3 linked regions of the Homo sapiens genome follow. The protein of the gene in region 1 interacts with the protein of each later gene in a pairwise test. Each region holds a gene or a part of one and is shown on either strand. Other genes may lie near its edges.

Evidence for each region. Proteins that work in one complex are often made in the same cells at the same time.
Region 2: the proteins of LASP1 (region 1) and CAMK2A interact in binary tests that used the Homo sapiens proteins (3 or more experiments, as listed by UniProt).
Region 3: the proteins of LASP1 (region 1) and POU1F1 interact in binary tests that used the Homo sapiens proteins (3 or more experiments, as listed by UniProt).

The regions. Positions count from the first base shown.
Region 1 is NC_000017.11:38,915,028-38,922,058, reverse strand, and holds the end of LASP1 (LIM and SH3 domain protein 1), read right to left. Parts: exon of another isoform or gene 7,017-7,031; coding exon 6,913-7,016; intron 3,455-6,912; coding exon 3,281-3,454; 3' UTR 289-3,280; downstream 1-288. UniProt on the Homo sapiens protein: Plays an important role in the regulation of dynamic actin-based, cytoskeletal activities.
Region 2 is NC_000005.10:150,218,960-150,223,773, reverse strand, and holds the end of CAMK2A (calcium/calmodulin-dependent protein kinase type II subunit alpha), read left to right. Parts: intron 1-556; coding exon 557-785; coding exon of another isoform or gene 786-789; exon of another isoform or gene 790-814; intron 815-1,060; coding exon 1,061-1,064; 3' UTR 1,065-4,283; downstream 4,284-4,814. UniProt on the Homo sapiens protein: Calcium/calmodulin-dependent protein kinase that functions autonomously after Ca(2+)/calmodulin-binding and autophosphorylation, and is involved in various processes, such as synaptic plasticity, neurotransmitter release and long-term potentiation.
Region 3 is NC_000003.12:87,266,554-87,273,584, forward strand, and holds part of POU1F1 (pituitary-specific positive transcription factor 1), read right to left. Parts: intron 6,944-7,031; coding exon of another isoform or gene 6,866-6,943; coding exon 6,794-6,865; intron 1-6,793. UniProt on the Homo sapiens protein: Transcription factor involved in the specification of the lactotrope, somatotrope, and thyrotrope phenotypes in the developing anterior pituitary. Specifically binds to the consensus sequence 5'-TAAAT-3'. Activates growth hormone and prolactin genes.

The sequences.
Region 1 (7,031 bases):
GGTTGGTGGGGAGTTCTCAGCAAGGAGGAAGTAGGGGCCAAGGGCCTGACAGACAGCAGCAAACTCCCCCTTGGCATCCAGACAAGTCATTCTCTCCCCGAGGGGCAGCAGAGGTCCCAGGAGGGCCACAGGCCAGTGCCCCCAAGCAGACAGGACACACACACACACACACACACAGTGGCACCTTACAGCTAGACACACACACACACAGCAGCACCTTACAGCTAGAGACACACACCCACACACAGACACACACAACAGCAGCTCAGAGCCAGAGAGGAAACCAAGTCCGCAGGTAAAAATTATACTTTTATTTGAGTCACCAGGAGAAAGATTCACTTGTGGTTCAAGTCAAATGTTCAGAATCATAACAGGCCAGAAAGGTTTGATCCCGAGCACAAGCCCACGAGGGAGGGGACCAAAACAGACCAAAATGAGACAACAACCCCATATAAAAAGATGAACTGGCGGCTTCACACACTCACACACATACACATACACACGGATGAAATGTTTGGACAGAGGCAAATTTCACGTGGTCATTTCTGTTTCTTTTTAAATACAGGTTTGTAGGGTGGTATTTTGTTTTTTCCAGCTATAAAAAAAGGCCCAAAAGTGCATGTGTGAGGGGGGAAAGGCAGAAATTAAGCAATAAAGTCATTTTCCCTGGAGGGACATGAGAGGGAGAAAACAGGAGGCAGTGCTGGGAGAACGCACTTTCCTCACCACTGGGCTTCTTGTTATTCTTAGTATTGGTCCACAAAAGTTATATTCACATTCTAGCTTTGATGCCTCTTTCCTGGGATTAAATGAGCTGAAAGACCTCTGTGAACTGTAGAGAAGACCAGGGGCTCAGCCCAGCCCAGCCCAGCCCCTCAGGGCTCTGTGCTCTTCTAGGGATGGATGGTTTTGGTAAAGAACAGACGCCCAGCAGCCCCCGGTCACTCAGCACCAGTGTGACAGTCCCTCCTCTCTCTGGGGGTGTGTAAGAAAACGGCCCCTATTTTTAGGACAGGAAGAGTAGAGGGAGGGCCTGCAGCAAGATTCCATGACTGGCTTGCCTTATCTGGGAAGGAGAATTAAGCTGAGTGAAAACAGGCTGCTTCTTGCTGCTCCTCCCTTCCACTCACCACTCTCCCAAACTCAGGTCCTCTAAGGGGATGTGTCCCTGACCTTTGGTCCCCAAATCCACATTGTGCTTTGAGATCAAGAGGAAACAGAATGCACCAGCGCCACCCAAGACTCCCAAGAGATTCTCTGCCTCCCCGAGCCCCCAAATCGCCCAATATAAGATATTCCACTTGCCTCCACCTAGGCTGGGGCCAGAAAGGAAAAGGGATGGGTCAGGCAGGGCCTCCCCACCCACAGTCTTTTCCTCAACCTCTCATTCGGGGCAAACATCCCCAAATCAATTAACAAGCAGTTGACAAAAACACCCATGATGACTGATTGTTGAACAGGCCAATACCTTCAGGTCCTGCCCCTCACCTGTGGGTACAAGTGTGCCAAGGGACAAGAGGCCAATGGCAGGGCCTGGTTGGGCTCAGGATGAAAATGGGATGGGGACTCCCAGAGGGTGGCAAGAAAACCAGAGATGAATCAAGTGAGGCCAGGGTTGTCACAGCCACCCATGAGCAGAGAGCAGGAACTGGATATAGCACCGTCTTTCCCTCCCCATCCCCGAGGCTGTGCTTCCAGTTTTGCAGCCCTGGGACCCTCTTTCTTGCTTCAAGGGAGCTTTATGTAAGTGAGGGGGAGGTCTAGGGGAAGAGCCCCCGAGGGAGACACCCACAGGGTGACACTTCTGCCACCCTATTCTGTAGCCCCAGACAGAGATGGGGAAACATATGCCTGGAGTGACAGAGCCTTCCTCCACCGCTTAGCCCCAGCAGGCTGCAGACCCTATGGCAGCCCCAACTCCACACCAACCTCTTACCTTCCACCCTGCACACTGCAAAGGGCAGATTGGTGGGCTTCCTCCACTCAGAGATGGGGGGAAGGAGGAATTTCATTCCAAAGAAAACCTAAGGAACTTCTCTGCCCCAGGAGCCCTCCCCTCTCACTGTGGGTTCTGAGGAAACTCTCAGGGGAAGACAGCTCTTCATACCCTCACATAACCCCACCCACACACAGGCCCAGAGACACCTACAGACACACCCCCGCCCCATCTCTCACACTCACACTCACACACTTGCGTGTCAGACACCTGCAGACATACATGCTCCTGCCTCCGCACACCAGGTCTTGGAGATTTAGTGGTCCCTGCTGACTTTGTGCAGCTCCAAGTCCACTTGGCATTGGGCTGGGGAGGGGAGGTCATGGAAGGCTCTGAGACATCTTCCCATGAGGAGCAGGGAGGAGCGGCCACCTAACCCAGATCCTGGGGGCTGAGGGAGGCTGAAGACCAAAAGGTCCTGAGGCACCCTTGCCCTACACTTCGGGACCATGGCTTCCAGCCTAGGAGGCAGGCAAGGGTCCCTGGAGACTGGGGGTGGGCGTGGGGAAAGGGGCTGCGGAAGAGAACTCCTTGTTCCCCTCCTTCCGGTAGCTGTCCCTAAAATTAAGAAAGGCAAGAACCTGACCCAAGCTGTGCTTCCTCGGGAGCTCTTTGCCCGCTGCAGGTCTGCGTGGGCAGGAGGGCAAAATCACAGTGTGCGAAGGAACGCGCGGGGAGGGGATGAATTCGCCCCACAGCAGGAACCCCATTCTCCTGTTGTTGCCCCTGAGGAGGGAGGTAGGGAGAGAGACCCCAGGTGGGCAGAGCCCCCTCTTTGAGAAAGAGAGGTAGAGCCCATCCCACTGGTCCCTACACAGCGGCAGAGTCCCCATCGCCATCCCAGGAACCAAGAAGTGGATCCCACTCTGGGGAATGTAGGGAGCCCCTGACCTGGGGTCCTGGCAGTCAGGCTCACCCCAGCCCTGGAATGTGTGGGTATGTGAGGAGCTGGGCAGGAGGATGTGAGGGGAGAGAACAGAGGGGCAGGTGAGGCCCACAGGCCAACAGGTCTCCCATTCCAGCCCTGCCTCCCCCAGAGAGGCCCATGCCCGTTCCATCCAGAGAGAAAACCAAGAAGTCGATCAAGGGGGAAGCCTGCCAGAGGAGGGAGCCCGCAGAAGTGGCAGAAGAAGGCTTCAGTTGGCAAAAGAAGCTGGAAGAGGGGTAGGAATCACAAGCTGTCGCAGGTTTTAAAAAACAGAGACACTGAAGAATGGACGGGTCACGCCCAGGACGGATGCGATGCCGTGGAATGTGCTGAAGACAGATGGGGGCGCTGCGGGTTCAGATGGCCTCCACGTAGTTGGCCGGCAGCATCCCCGTGTCGCCGGTGCGCTCCACCGTCCCGTACATCCAGCCGTCGTCGATCTGCTGCACGTTGACGATGGTGTCCCCGTCCTGGAAGGAGACCTCGTCCTCGTCGGCGGCGCTGTAGTCATACACCGCGCGGTACCGCTTCTGTGGGGGAAGTGTGGTCAGCCTAGGGCCCTGCATGCCGGCTCACCTGGGTCTGAGCATTTTTTTCTAACTCTCCACGACCCTGGAGCAGAGCCTGGGGGAGCAGTGAACTCAGAAATGGAGCACCAGGCTCTGCTGCAAAGATTCTTAACCTCTGTGTCTTGCTTTCTGAGAGCAATCGATCTTTTACAACCTTTGGCAGCTACTAAGGGCCAGAGGCAGAGCAGGGACCGGGTCACATCAGCTCTGCCCCACCTCCCTGAACAGGACTGCAGTAAGGTCCACCAGCCATGATGACAGAGTAATGTCTAAAAATACGACATGCAGGCCAGGTGCAGTGGCTCACGCCTGTAATCCCAGCACTGTGGGAGGCCAAGGCAGGAGAACTGCTTGAGCCCAGAAGTTTGAAATCAGCCTGGGAAACACAGTAAGACCCCCCAACTCCCTCTTTTTTTTTTTTTTTTTGAGATGGAGTCTTGCTTTGTCACCCAAGCTGGAGTGCAATGGTGTGATCTTGGCTCACTGCAACATCCGCCTCCCGGGTTCAAGCGATTCTCCTGCCTCAGCCTCCCAAGTAGCTGGGACTATAAGCGTGTACCACCATGCCCGGCTAATTTTTGTACTTTTTTGTAGAGACAGGGTTTCATCATGTTGGCTACGATGGTCTCAAACTCCTGGTCTCAAGTGATCCGCTCGCCTCGGCCTCCCAAAGTACTAGCGTGAGCCCATCTCAACAAAAAATAAAAAATTAGTTAGGCTTAGTGGTACATGCCTGTAGTCTCAGCTACTCAGGAGGCTGAGGTGGGAGGATGGCTTCAACCCAGGAGGTTAAGGCTGCAGTGAGCTAGCTGTGATTGCACCACTGCTGCACTCCAGCCTGGGCAGCAGAGCAAGACCCTGTCTCAAAAAAGAAAAAAAAAACAGAAAAAACATGCCCTGTATGCTATTATTTGTATGATTATAAGCACCAGTAGTTTCTTTTAGAAGCCATGATGAGTCCTGTCCAAGTTCAGGACAAAGATCTTTCCTTGGGAGAAAAATCTTCAGAGGACAGAAGACGAGTCTATCAGGTTCCACCTTCCAAGCCTCAGCCAAAATCTGCCGCTTAAGCCCTAGATCTAGGTAATGTTCAGTAAGGCACACAAAAACCTACAGCGCCACCTACTACCAGGATGGAGTTTAAAAAAAGAAAGAGGAAAAAAAAAAGAAAAATAAATCCTATAGCTATAGACAACATTCTACCTCCCCTGACCTTCACTGCCCTTGACTGGTCTCTGAGGCTCCACAGGACAGTTTGAAACCAACAGGTCTATGGGATAAGAAGTCACACCTCCCATGAAGTAACCTCAGTCTCTCTCATCACCAATTCTGCCTCTATCTTGGGCTGAGCCACTCCCATCCATGCCTATATCCTGCAACAGCCTCCTGACGGTCTCCCTGCTTCTACCCTCAAACCACTGCCTCTTCTCAACACAGCTGCCAGGGTGGTCTTCCAAAAACCTATGTCGCTCTGCACAGATCACAGGTCACAGAGGCCTTCCTGGGGCCCACAAGTCCCTGCATAATCGGACCTCCCACCCTCTCCCACTCTAGTCAATTCGGGCTTCCTGCTGCTCCCTGAACTTTCCTAGAATATTCCTGCCTCAGAGCCTTTGCACTTCCTGTCCTCGTTGCACGGCTCACTCCTTCCTTTATTGAGGACTTTGCTCAAATGTCACGTCTTTTTTTTCTTTTTTTTTTTCTAGCTGGAGTTTTGCTCTTGCTGCCCAGGCTGGAGTGCAAATGGCGTGATCTCGGCTCACTGCAACCTCCACCTCCCAGGTTCAAGCAATTCTCCTGCCTCAGCCTCCCGAGTAGCTGGGATTATGAACATGCACCACCATGCCGAGCTAATTTTATATTTTTAGTAGAGACAGGGTTTCACCATGTTGGCCAGGCTGGTTTCGAACTCCTGACCTCAGGTGATCTGCCCACTTTGGCCTCCCAAAGTGCTGGGATTACAGGTGTGAGCCATCGCACCCGGCCAAATGTCTTTTTTCTTTGGAGATATTGCTCTGTCACCCAGGCTGGAGTGCAATAGTGCAATCTTGGCTCACTGCAACCTCTGCCTCTCGGGTTCAAGCAATTCTACTGCCTCAGCCTCCCGAGTAGCTGGGATTACAGGTTACAGGCATACACCACCACACCTGGCTAATTTTTGTATTTTTGGTAGACAGGGGGTTTCACCATGTTGGCCAGGCTGATCTCGAACTCCTGACCTCAAGTGACCTGCCCGCCTTGGCCTCCCAAAGTGCTGGGATTACAGGCGTGAGCCACCACCCCCGGCCAAATGTCTTAATCCAGCTGCTTTCTATCCATCCCTCACCCTGCTGTCTTTCTCTTCACAGCGTGTCACCGCTGACCTTATGTTATACACCTATTTTCTTATTGTTTTCTTGTTTGTCCCCCTGACTGGAATGTAAGCCCCCAGAGGGCAGAGAGGTGGCTTTATATTCAGAGATGGACCCTACACATCCAGGACAGACCCATTGAGGAGGGAGGGACTGGCTGGGCTGCCTGGAACCTTATACTTCAGACTAACTCTTGCGCCCACAGTGCCCTGGGCAGTCCTAACATCCCTTTGTTTGTGTGCCCAGAGCATCAGACTCCAGCCAGCCATTATCTCAGGCGATTTTATCTCTCTAAGTATCTGTTCTGCTCCTACGTGAGCTACTTTGAATTCCCAGGCACCCAGCCTGGAGGCGCTGAGCCTGCCAGGAGCTTGGTAAGGGTGGCTCAGCGGCACCCATGGGTGGAGTGAGTGGCAGGACTTACAGAGCCGGGACTTCAGCTCTGAGGGCTCAGGAAGCCTGATCTCACCCCATTCCTGCTGGGCTTATTCACTTGCTCTAGGCCTGGCTCAGAGTAGGTGAACCAGACGGACGCTGCCAGGGTCCCCAGCCCAGCAGGGGACACAGAGAAGGTGACCAACACGAAGAGCTCTTTTTAGTTGGAAAAAGTGCTCTGAAGGCAGCCAGCGGAGTCGAGTGATGCAAAGCATCAGGGTGATGCGCTTTACACGACATGGCTGGGGAGGCCCCTCAGAGGCAGGGGCAGCCTGAGAGCTGAAGGATGTGGGGGCCATCCTCATGAAGCGAGGAGAGCAGCGCCCAGTGCTGGAAGGCCCCATGCAGAAAGTTGCCTTGTGTGTTCCCAGGTAGCTGGGGTAAGGAAACCCCACCCAAAGCAGGGTGAGCAACCTGCCCATGGTACACCAGGGCTGGAACGCAGGGCCCCAGTCCCAGCCAGCCTCTGCCCACTACGCCAACCAATTTCCTCTCTGCTCACAAGGCTGAGATCCTTATCATCACACACAACAGAGGGTGGGTGCAAAGGTCAGGAGAATCCATGAGCTGTGTCCAAGCCTTCCCGAAGGACCCCCTGCCTCTGGCCTCTCCCCTCCGGCCAGGGTTACTCACCCCGCCACCACCTGGGGCGCTGCGCTGTATGGAGACTGGGGCTGCAGGCTCCTTGTAGCCACCATAGGACTGGGCCACCGGCTGCTGCTGGGGCTGCTGGTAAACTGGAAGATGGGAGG
Region 2 (4,814 bases), on another chromosome or scaffold:
ACGAGGCACGTCAACACTGGTCTCACTCACATGGCAACCACCAGGGAAGCTGTGTGCAGGATGCCCTCTTTAGGTGGGACAAGACATTCTATTCGCCACAGTCCCCATCACTCCCTATCGCCTCCCTGACCCAGAGGCAAAGGGTCAGTTGTCATTTAGCATCTTATACCCAGCTCAGCCCCCGTTGTTTATGTGCCTGCCTGGTACCTGGGGGGATCCGGATTTGAGACTGTGCTCACAGCTCTTCTGGTTCTATGATCCTCTAGGCTTATTCCATGTGGCTAACGGTCATGATTCAAACATTCCATTTTCTCATGTTTGATGAATTCTGCATGTCTGAACTCCACTGTATCTAAACTAGGATGTGATGTCCCCATCATCTAGAAGTTCTACCTTGATCCCAGGTAGCTGAGTCCTGCCACACAGGCCCCTTCCCTGCAAATGAGTCAGGCAGGGCGCCTCCATTGAGAGGGCTGCTGGGAGTGGAGAAAGTGAAGAAAGTGAGACAGGAGGCCCCCGGTTGCATCTCCTCTGCCCCTCCCATCCCCTCCTCCAGTGTGGTCCCGGAACAGCAAGCCCGTGCACACCACCATCCTGAATCCCCACATCCACCTGATGGGCGACGAGTCAGCCTGCATCGCCTACATCCGCATCACGCAGTACCTGGACGCTGGCGGCATCCCACGCACCGCCCAGTCGGAGGAGACCCGTGTCTGGCACCGCCGGGATGGCAAATGGCAGATCGTCCACTTCCACAGATCTGGGGCGCCCTCCGTCCTGCCCCAGTAAGAATCCCTCCTTCCTGCCTCCCAGGGTAATGTAAAGGATGGGAGTGTTGCCCTGGAGGGGGTTACGTCGGGGAAGCTGCTGCCTTCAGCTCTGAAAGGCTGCAGAGTGGGGTGGGGAGACCCCAAGAAGGGGGCCAGGCCTGCAGGTCTGGGGGAAGAGCTGGGCAGGAGCCACCAGGGACCGCATGGACTCCATCTAAAGCGGCAGGGTGGGTGGGTTGCCCAAGCAGGAAACACCATGCCCTGAGAAGCACCCCGTGTGTGTCTTACAGCTGAGGGACCAGGCTGGGGTCGCTGCGTTGCTGTGCCGCAGAGATCCACTCTGTCCGTGGAGTGGAGCTGCTGGTTCTCCCAGGTGGATTTTGCTGGAATTCTCCCATGTCATCACCCCACCACCGTCACTTCTGTACCTGCATCAAGAAAACCTGCTTGTTCACAAAAGTCATCGCAACTTCAGAGCGAACGGCCACATCTCCCCACCTCTCACCCCCACCCTCTCCCCTGCCAGGCTGGGGCTTCCTCAGGCATGGGTGTCCACAGCACTGGCCCCCTCTCCCCAGCCTCAGCTGCTGTCCGCCTGATCTGTCTTGGGCTGTAGGCTAGAATGCCCGGGCTGGTGCCCACCAGGGGCTGGGGAGAAGGAGGGGTGGCATGATGAGGAAGGCAGCATCCGTCCGTCCCTCTCCCAGACCTCTCCTCTTCCAGTGTCCCCGGGGAAGGGCAGATGACACTCCCTTCCCCCTAAGCCAACCGCACTGAAGGAGTGGGGAGAAGAGCATACGCCAGGAGCCTCCTGCCTCAAAGTGCTCCCCTAAGTCTTCTTCCTCCTGTGCTGACCTCAGGGTGGTCTGACCCTTCCCTCGGTGTGGGGGATGTGGCCCTCTCAGGTGCCCCTACTTGCTTTCTGCTTCCTTCTGGTGAAGTCCACCTCCAACATTAACCTGCCCACCCCACCCCCGTCATCCCTGGAGAATTCCAGCTTTGTCGTATCTCAGAGAGGGAATCTAATTGTTTTTGGGGGGCAAAAGAAAGCAACGTTTAGGTATCACTTCTACTTGGACCGCATGCCTTTTTATAGCCAAATTTCTGTGTATTTCGTAAATGGATTTCGCGTTAATGGATATTTATGTAATAACTAGACTTCTCAGATTATTGTGAGAAGGGTCAGGTTGGAAGGGGTGTAGGAAGAGGGGTGAGGGGTAGTTTTTTTCTGTTCTAGTTTTTTTTTTTTTTTTTGTCATCTCTGAGGTGGACCTTGTCACCTGTGGTTATTGGGGCCAAGGTGGACTCAGCTCCGGGGAGAAGGGCCTCTCTGCCATTTCGGTCCCAAGGTGAGCTGACACAGGCGTTCCTTTTGGGACTGTGGAAGCATCAGATGCCAGCACTGACTCAGGAACAGCAAGTCAGGGCAGAGAGGAGGAGGGAGGCTGTCAGGATGGAAATACCTGGACTTTTCTTTGCTTCCCTCGCAAACTGGGGTCTTCTCTACCGAACTTCCCAGGATTTCATCTCACCATATCTGTGTGCCGCCCCCAGCACCCCCCACCCACCTCTGGGGGGCCCGTGAGCGTGTGTCTTCATTGCCTCTCTCCCCTTGGCGTCTGATGACCACAGCAAAGCACTGGGAATTTCTACTCTTCATGCCTCATCCTGCAGCCTCGGGTTCGCATTCTCTCTTTCTTTTCCTCTTTCCCTCTTTCCCTGGGATTGACTCTGAGTGGAATACCTTGGCACATCCACTAGGATCTACTGTCTGCACTGTTTTCTTTGCATGACTTTATACGCAGTAAGTATGTTGAAAACAAACAAAAAGAAGAAAACACTCAACAAAACCAATCTACATGTTTTGGACTAAAAAAAAAAATAGAGGTTGTATTCTCAGTGTCCGACTCGGAATTATGTTGCTGCCTCTCTGTGCTTTTGGCCTCTGTGTGGCCGTGTTTTGCCAGCATGAGATACTGTCCCCTCTGGAGGATTTTAGGGGAGGAAGAGCCACGTCCCCAGGGATTGGAGGAGGCTCCGGTACCCTCGACCCTCCTGGGTGTTGGTTGGAGCAGAACTGGTGAGGATGTTTGATCCGAGATTTTCTGAGCTCTCCCCAATCACCAGCTGTCTGCTGGGTTCTTTTCTCAAGTCCTGCTGCCCAGGCCCAGGTGAGACAGGCAACGCCAGGTCTGCAGGCCAGGAGAGATGCTGCCCAGGCCTCCTGGTTTCCAAGCTGGTCCATCACTGGCCTCTGTCCTTGGCAGAGACCTTGCTGCCCAGGCCCAGGGGCAGGCTCTTGGCCTGCCCCAGGCCCAGAGGGCTTCCCAGTAAGGCCCAGTGATCCCATTATCCCAGGGGCAAAACCACCTGTCCCCTTTTGAGCTGCCAGTTCCCTACAGCCATCCCCAGTCAAGGGTGAGGGTGTGGCCTTCACCAGGGGCTGCTGTAATTACCGAGCAAGGTCTGAGCTCTTCTTCAGCCTCAGTTCCCTCATTGGTTAAAAGGGTTCTTTGTTCCCATCCAGCCGATGAAGGAGCAAACGTCTGGCTATGTGAAGCCTAATTTACCTGCAGGAACTGGCAGGGATAGTCACTGGCTGGACTCCTGTTTACTTCTAGACCTGGTCAGGCTCCATCCCCTCCCCCACCTGCCCCTGATTCCCCTCGTCGGTGCCTGTCAACTGCTTTTCAGCAGTGGACTGCAGGGGAAAGAGCAGTGATTTGGGGTGAGTAGGCTTCAATTCCCAGCTCTGACCAGACTTGCTGTGTGACCTTGGGCAAGTTCCTTTCCCTCTTTGGAGCTTGGTTTCCCTGCCAGAGGAAACTGAGCTGGAGGAGCCTGAGGTCCTGCCTTTCATTGGCTGACACACCTCCTGTCCACTGTGTCACTCTCCAAGTGCCAGAGAAGTGGAGGCAGATCGCTACCCCAGGCTGAGATGGCCCCCACTGTGAAGGCCACGCCTGTGGGTGGGCAGCCACCTGGTGCCACCACAGGGCACCAGGGATGATCCTGATGTGGCAGGCAGGGGAGACTCACAGAAAAATCTGCCCAGAGCCTACCCTCACCAGACAAACTCTGTGCTCCTCCAAAACATCCTTTAGATGCAAAATAATAATAATAATAATAATAAATAAATAAATAAAAATCCAAACCCAAGTCAAAACCTTGGCTCCAGCATGAAAACACGTTTACAGGAAAGTGTTCTCCTGGGTTTGTGCCCACCATGGTGCGAATCCTGACCCAAGGCCTCCTGTCTCCCTTCAAAGGGAGACCCTTTTGGGGGATGAGTTTGCCAGACTCCCCGTGCTGGTTTCTTTGTTACTATTTGTTTGGGGTTTTGTTTTAGTTCTTTTTTTTTTTCTTTTCTTTTTTAAAAATATGTGGCTGTGAACTTGAATGAACACTGCTCAAACTTTCTGCTATTGGGGGGGGCGGGTGGGATGGGAAGAAGGGGCGTTTGTTTTATTCTTGGTGTTTTCAGTGCAATAAATAGCTACAAACTTCTGTGCACTCTGTGTGTCCCTGTCTTGGTCAAGCCCCTGAGCTGGGAGGTTTTTGTTAGTTTCCAGTTCCAGATCTGCCCCATGGCAAAATAAAAGTCCTGGTCTTCATTCTGATTGGACCAACTGTGGTCACATGCTCAAGGCTGAGCCAGTCACTGTGGGATTATGCCTGGACCACATGCCCCACCTGTAGAGCCAGGGATGGGGTCAGCTTTCTCCCAGGCACATGGGGGTACCCTCAACAAGAGCAAAGGGGTGGCTATGGGTTGCCTGAGCAGCCAAGAGCTAAAGCCTCTCTTGGGCCCTGGGGCAAGGTTCTTCTCCTCTGGGCCTCAGTTTCCCTGTACAATGTGGAGGTTATTCCACAAGTCCCCCACCCATTCTCTTCCCTCAGCCCAGCCTCACAGATGAGTGCTCAGGACTCACCATGCCAGAGAGTGCTTTAAAGAATGGGGAAGGGGAGGAAGGGTCTCTTTACCCATAAACATATGTCTGGACCTAGTGCCTGGGACACTTTGGTCCTTGGAGCCCGAGCTGC
Region 3 (7,031 bases), on another chromosome or scaffold:
CTGCTACTTTTACAAACCAAAATTATCCAGGTTTACTTTTGTAAAAGTCAGTTAACTATCCATTTTATGCTTTATTGTGTGGCATCTTGATCAGACAAGAGAACATTTTTAAAAGCAATTTTACCAACTTTTCTTTTATTATATAGCTTTTCTTGAAAATATTTATTGCCGTGGGGTTTATTTTTAGCTTTTTATTAATTTTAATTTTCTGCTAAATTAAAAGAAGGACTAATAGATGTAAAAGAAAATTGATGACATTTATGTTATCATTTATTTAATCTCATATTTATCTGAAGACTTGTTTTGTGCTTATGCTTTCAGAATTGATTCTCACATATATTTATAAAACCTTCACTTCTTTGATTATTTAGGTCCATCAGGTATCACTTAATACATTTAATGATAAAATACCCTGAGAAAGAGTACAAAGAAAAGCCAGGCTACTGTTAGATTTTGTACATTTAACATATTTTAAGACACTTTAGATAACTCATTTAACCTATGTCAAATTATGTTTATTTTATATAAAAAATTTGTGTGTTTTTTACTTACGCATACTAAAAGGTCTAAATTTGTTATCAATTATTATTATTATTTTCAATTTCTCTTGCTGATCATAATTATGTACTGCTACAAATCTTCTATGCAACACTTTGTGTCGTGTTAATTTCACATTTGTTATCATCTTTATCCTTATACAAAAAATGAGTCAGGAAAGATATATATTTTTCCCCATAATTTACAATGGAGGAAATTTAAGTAGAAAGAAAGTAAATAACTTGCCTCCAGTGCCCAACGAATTAACTTTGCAGTTTAAACCAGAACTAAAGTCTAATAAGCATTGCAGTAAGCCACATCAAAATCATTGCCCGGTTCATTCTCCAGGCAGTCTATACTCAGGCAAATTAAATAACTTCTCTTTAAAAGGTTTTCTCTGCATTTAAACACCTTTGGCTATATTAAACAAACACTGTTCCACAAAAATATTACAATAAAATATATATAAAGTGTGTCATCCCTGTTTCCGTAAAATTGTTTATTTGTTTGTTTGCTTATTTATTCTTTATTTTTAGAGATGGGGTCACACTCTGTCTCCTAGACTGGAGTGCAGTGGTAAAATCTTAGCTCATTGCAATCTCAAATTTCTGGCCTCAAGCCATCCTCCCACCTCAGCATCCTAAGTAGAATCTACAGGCATGCACCGCCATGCTCATCTACTTTTTTAAATTTTTTGCACAGACGGGATCTCACTATGTTGCCCAGGCTGGTCTCAAAACTCCTGGCTTCAAGCAATCCTCCAGCCACAGCTTCCTGTAGTGCTAGAATTATAGGTATAAGCCACAGAACCCAGCCACAAAAATTGAAAGGTAGTTTATACATTGTAAGTACTCTGGGAAAGTGGACACGCAGAAAACAAATTTGAATGGAATCCATGAAAAGTACACAGAAAATACCATGCTCCAAGGTTTGGCATCCAGAACAAGAAGGAAAATGTGATGTGTGATACATTTTTTATTTTTTTCCCTTTCCCTTTTTTTTTTTTTTTTTTTTTGACACAGCGTCTCGCTCTTGTTCCCTAGGCTGGAGTGCTCTCGGCTCACTGAAACCTATGCCTCCTAGCTTCAAGCAATTCTCCTGCCTCAGCCTCCCTAGTAGCTGGGACTACAGGTGCCTGCCACCACACCCGGCTAATTTTTATATTTTTTAATTTATTTTTTATTTATAATTTTTTATTTAGAGACAGGGTTTCACCACATTGGCCAGGCTATTCTCGGACTCCTGACCTCAGGTGATCTGCCTGCCTCGGCCTCCTAAAGTGCTGGGATTACAGTTGTGAGCCACTGCACCTGGTTCACTTTCATTTTTCATTGCATGAAAGTATCTACAATTATCTGCAAGGTCACAGATTTCCTGGAACTAACTTCACACAGAATTTCATCACAACAATTTAAAAGAACAGCCAAACGAACCTCTGTTTCTAGCATCTGAGCCTGCATTTGGGGGAGTGTGGAGAGTGATTGGGATGATATGTATAGCAATATGTTTTTCAAATCTTTTTAAAACCCAGATTACTGCAAAAAGTAGGAATAAGATAAAAGATGTTGTGAGTCATGTGTGACAGAGGTCTCATCAACATTTTCTGAAACATGGATAAAGAAAAATTATCTTGAGGCCTGGACAGCACACACACACATAGCTCAGAAGTGTTTGCACACTGTAGTTCCAAATACATTTTCACATTGAAGATTAATTCACCAGAGCCTTTCTAAATTGCTATGTATGCATTTCTGTGTGACAGAGGAGAGAGAAGAACAGAGGTAAATCTTTTAAAGCAGGCAATGGGGGTCAGAGATAGGGATGCCTTACTAGGCGCTGACTCAATGTACCATAGCATGGGGCAAATTGATCTTTGCAGCATGTGGTTAGCTGACAACATCATCTCACGTTACTGGCTTGATGCCTTAAAAAAACAAACAGGGGAAGCAGAGGGACATAGTAAAATACGCCACCCTGCTGTGCTTGTAACATGCACAGGAACATGTATCTGAATATTTCCATATATTCCCCTCTGTTGCTTAGGCATAAAAATTCAAAGGAAATTATAAACTTCCACTGTGATCTTTTCACTCTTGTGCATTGGTAAATCCTATCCGTGTACAACTGGGGCCTATTGCCTGTGTTTGTAAATTAAGTTTAATTTGAAATGCCTATTTCTTTACACACAGGCTGTGACTGCTTTCCTACTACAATGACAGGTTGAATAGTTGCAACAAAAACTAGAAAGGTTGAGATATTTACTGTCTGGTTCTTTACAGAAAAGGGTTGCCAACCCCTAGTCTGGAAGTGAAAATACATCATGTTACTGCTACCAAAAGACCTTTCACGATGTGGAAGCAAAAGATCTTCAGAATTACTTGTTTCCTTAGAGTTGTTACAACCAGAACAATTTAGGGCCAAATAAAACAAAGAACTAAACAAAAGAAGTAAATTAAGAAAAAAAAATTTCAAATTTCAAAAAATGAAAAGATGGGTTCCAAAAATAGACTAGACTATTTCTCCCTGTCAGTTGCCAGGCTGATTTCCGTTTTCTTCTGTATTAGCCCAGGCAGCAAGAATATTTTCAGCCATAACAATCTTTTCTTTTAATATCCACTTCTCATGAAAAAGAATTGGATGCTCATCATCTTGTTTAAGTCCCAAGAGTTTGGGACTTAAACAAGTTTGTTTGTTTTGTTTTGTTTTGTTTTCCCCTTGAAATTAACTTTTAAAGCAAGGACTTTCACACTACTTCTTGGTTTGGCCACTACATCATGTAAAGATGGTGGGTTTAACATTTATTACAGTGAGGTTGATTTGCTGTTTCCACAGGACAGCAGAAAGGGTGAACCCCCATTGAGCTTGTTTCCTGAATTGTACTCTGCTTCAGATACTGGAGAACAGAAACAATCTCAGAAACCCAAGAGTCAGAGTTTTGAGAACTTTTTTTTTGATACTTTGTTTTGTTTTGTGTTTATCTAGGAGAGACTTTGAACAGCATCTGTAATTCTAGGTTTTCTATTATTTGTACTGTAAGGTGTTGATTTGAATTCTCTAAGTTCTCAGGAGTGAAAGGACAGAAGGAATTTAGCTGCAAGAGTACGTGAAGAGAAGGGCAAAAGAGAAATCATTTTGAGCTGACACAAATTTGCTACTACTCAACCCCAGTAGAGTTGTAGTACCCACCACAACGTAGATATGAAGAGATTGGAACTCAGAGGTGTTAATCACTTGAACAATGTTAGTAATTAGTTAATGGCATGGATAATTCATTACTCCCAATTAGTCATTCTCTTTATTTTGCCTGCACCTGGACTATTACGTACAGTGGATTCATCTGATCATTAAAATTCTACCTACCAACCTGACAAAATATTAGTTATAGCTCTTCTTTTCCTGTGAGTTATTAATTTAATGAAATGCTCAAACTAAATGTAAGCATCAGAGTATGAGTAATGAAATAACCATATGAAAATAAAGTAATTTCACATATTTTAGAAATATAGTTCTTCCTGTAGCTTCACTTTTATATAGAGTATGTGACACCGTGTCGTTGTTGTTGTTAAGACACTTCTGTGGATTGTGTGCAAGGGGCTGATTTGATTAATGACTTAAGACTTCTCAGAAAATTCAGATGACATAATAAGGTTTCTATTGTGTACTTTATACATTTGTCTCTTATTTACCTTTTCTCTCTTATTTCTGAATTGCTGTATTTTGTAACTCAATTTATGCAGCTTTACTGGGGATAAAGTCAGGAGAGTTCAGATTCTCTAAGATCTAATCTCTCATGAAGCAAATGCTAATACTGAATTATGTCCCAATATAGACATTCTGACATTTAAAGCATATCACATTTTAACAAAATTTTTGAGAGGGATTTAACAATCCCTCTCAAAAATATTCAAATATCTTTGTGCTTGTGATGGTGAGTTTTTCTTTCAGTCACAGAATATATTTAATCTTAAGACCACAGTGATAGCTCCAGACCTTGGTGTAAGTCTTCTGCTCTTGATGTCACTAAGACAGGGTTTTGAATCATTTTGAAAGGCTCTTCCAGGGGTCTTTACATTTTAATTGAAATGAGGAAGAGGTTCGTGGAAGAGGGTTTGCTGAGTTCATGCTGGAGGAAACTTGTATCAGAAAGACATGAGCTGCCAACACTCTCAATGTGAACATTGGCATATTGGCTCCAGTCCTGGAAGCAGTAAGGGTGTTAGAATTCTGAGGCCAGCTGCAAACTCCCGAGGCCAGTGGTGGCCCTCTCTGATTAGGCAGGGTGGGAGTTGGTAGCAAAAATTATCTGAAGGTATTTGGGCCAGAGATTATTGGCCCCTGCTCTGTGACTGGTTTTAATCTTGGTGCCAACCTCAATCAACTGGCAGGGACTGCCTCTGTGCTGGGTTAAGAGAGAAACTAACAATGTACCTTGGTTCCTGGGAGTTCCTCTAAATGAACTGTAAGGTCTTTCCTCCAGGAAACAGTGGCATGTGTTTGTCATTTCCTGTCTCATAATCAAAATGCTGTAAAGGCCACAGAAAGCAATCCACCCGCACCTCCAGTAGCTAAACGCATTTATTTTACTATTTTATAATGACAGTAGTTCATCATTGAGGAGGGCTATTCTCATTAACCATGAATACTAATTAAGCATGTTGATCATAAATAATCAATTTTCAGAGAGGAAGAAAAAATATGGCTTTAATTCTTAATTTTTAAAAAAAGACGTCAGGATTTACAGGTCATTGTTAAGAACACCAGTCTTCATTTAACCATAAATGTTAGGATACTGGTTTATTCAGAATGTTGCTTGATAGAATGTAGGAGAAGCTCATATTTTTCTGGATTATTATTTTAAAGTTTTAATGTTCTATTTAGTCTTACATGGACAAATTTTGAGATATCAAAGGTTAAACAATTTAATTAAAATTAAACTATTTGCTCCATTTTACTTGAAAATTATAGGAATAAATCAATATTTGTCTGCGGTTTTTTTTTTTTACTGCTTATCTGTATCATAACAAAACACAAGTCAATTAGAAAAGATTTCCCTAATAAGTGATTCCTTTATCCACAGTTTTTCCCTCAGTATCACACACATACACACACACCATGCACACGCACACACACATTTACTCACACAGTTTGTCATCAATAAGAATTCTTTTCCTGCTGTAGTAATAAAGATAAAATATCAAAGAATTTCTTTTCTTTTCTTTTATTATTATTATACTTTAAGTTTTAGGGTACATGTGTACAATGTGCAGGTTAGTTACATATGTATACATGCGCCATGCTGGTGCGCTGCACCCATTAACTTGTCATTTAGCGTTAGGTATATCTCCTAAAGCTATCTTAAAAATAAACCAACAAATGAAAATCCTGCGCATAATAAAACTGTGTACTTTTTAAAAACAATTAAAATCTTATGTGGCCATGCCATGAAATTAAACAAGAATTTTTGATGAATAGATCTCATAAGCCAGATCTACGCATTCCTCAAAAACTGTGCTTCAATGCCTTTATAGAAGGATCAATAAGCAGGTAGCCATAATTGATACAGTCATACTTCACTTACCTATAGGAGAAAAGTATGTAACTTCAATGATTTCAATCTCACTTAAGACTCACTCAGAAGCAATTCAGAAAGGGCTGCTAAAGCCTGAAACAGCTATCACTAAAGCCCCTACCAATCACTCTTAGCTTCAATCAATGTCTTATTTATGTTTATGGACCAAAGGTCCAGAAGAAATATAATGATGAGGGGGGGTGTTCTGTAAACCTGTGCTGTCTGATATGGGAGTCGCTAGCCACATGTGGTTATAGAGCACTTGAAATGTAGCAAGTGCAACTGAGAAACTGAATTTGAAATCTTGTTTTATTTTACCTAGTTTACATTTAAATTTAAATAGCCACACGTGTCTAGTAGCTACTATATTTTTAGTGAAGGTAAGCCTACCAATAGCATCATGTTACAACTAACAGTTTGACGATAGTGAATTTCAATAAAAACCATACAAAGCAAACTCAAGAAGCACAGCAGTTCAGAGATACGTAAGTAGGGAAATTAGGTATAACCCCTATGGTCTCTGTGGGTGTCACAGAGCAGGAAACAAGAAGTGGTGATTTTTAACAGTAATTTTCAAAGTTAAGAAATCAAATTTCATGTCACACTCTGATCACAATTCTTTCAGGCCCAGAAAATCCATCTAAGTGTCCCCAAATTCAATAACATGTAAAAGACAACTTTTCTTACCTGCCATCACTCCATAGGTTGATGGCTGGTTTCCATAATGACAGGAAGGAACAGAATAATGAAGTCCTGTTGCTGTGTTTCCCAACGTTGTCACCGAGAAATGTGTGCACAAACATTTAGGAGTTTGGATCAAAGACAAAATAGATGGGACTGGTAAGAAAATGTATAAGGATTCAAGACACATTCGTTTTATTTCAAAAATACACATTTATGTGGTTCTTAAAGTTACATGCCAATA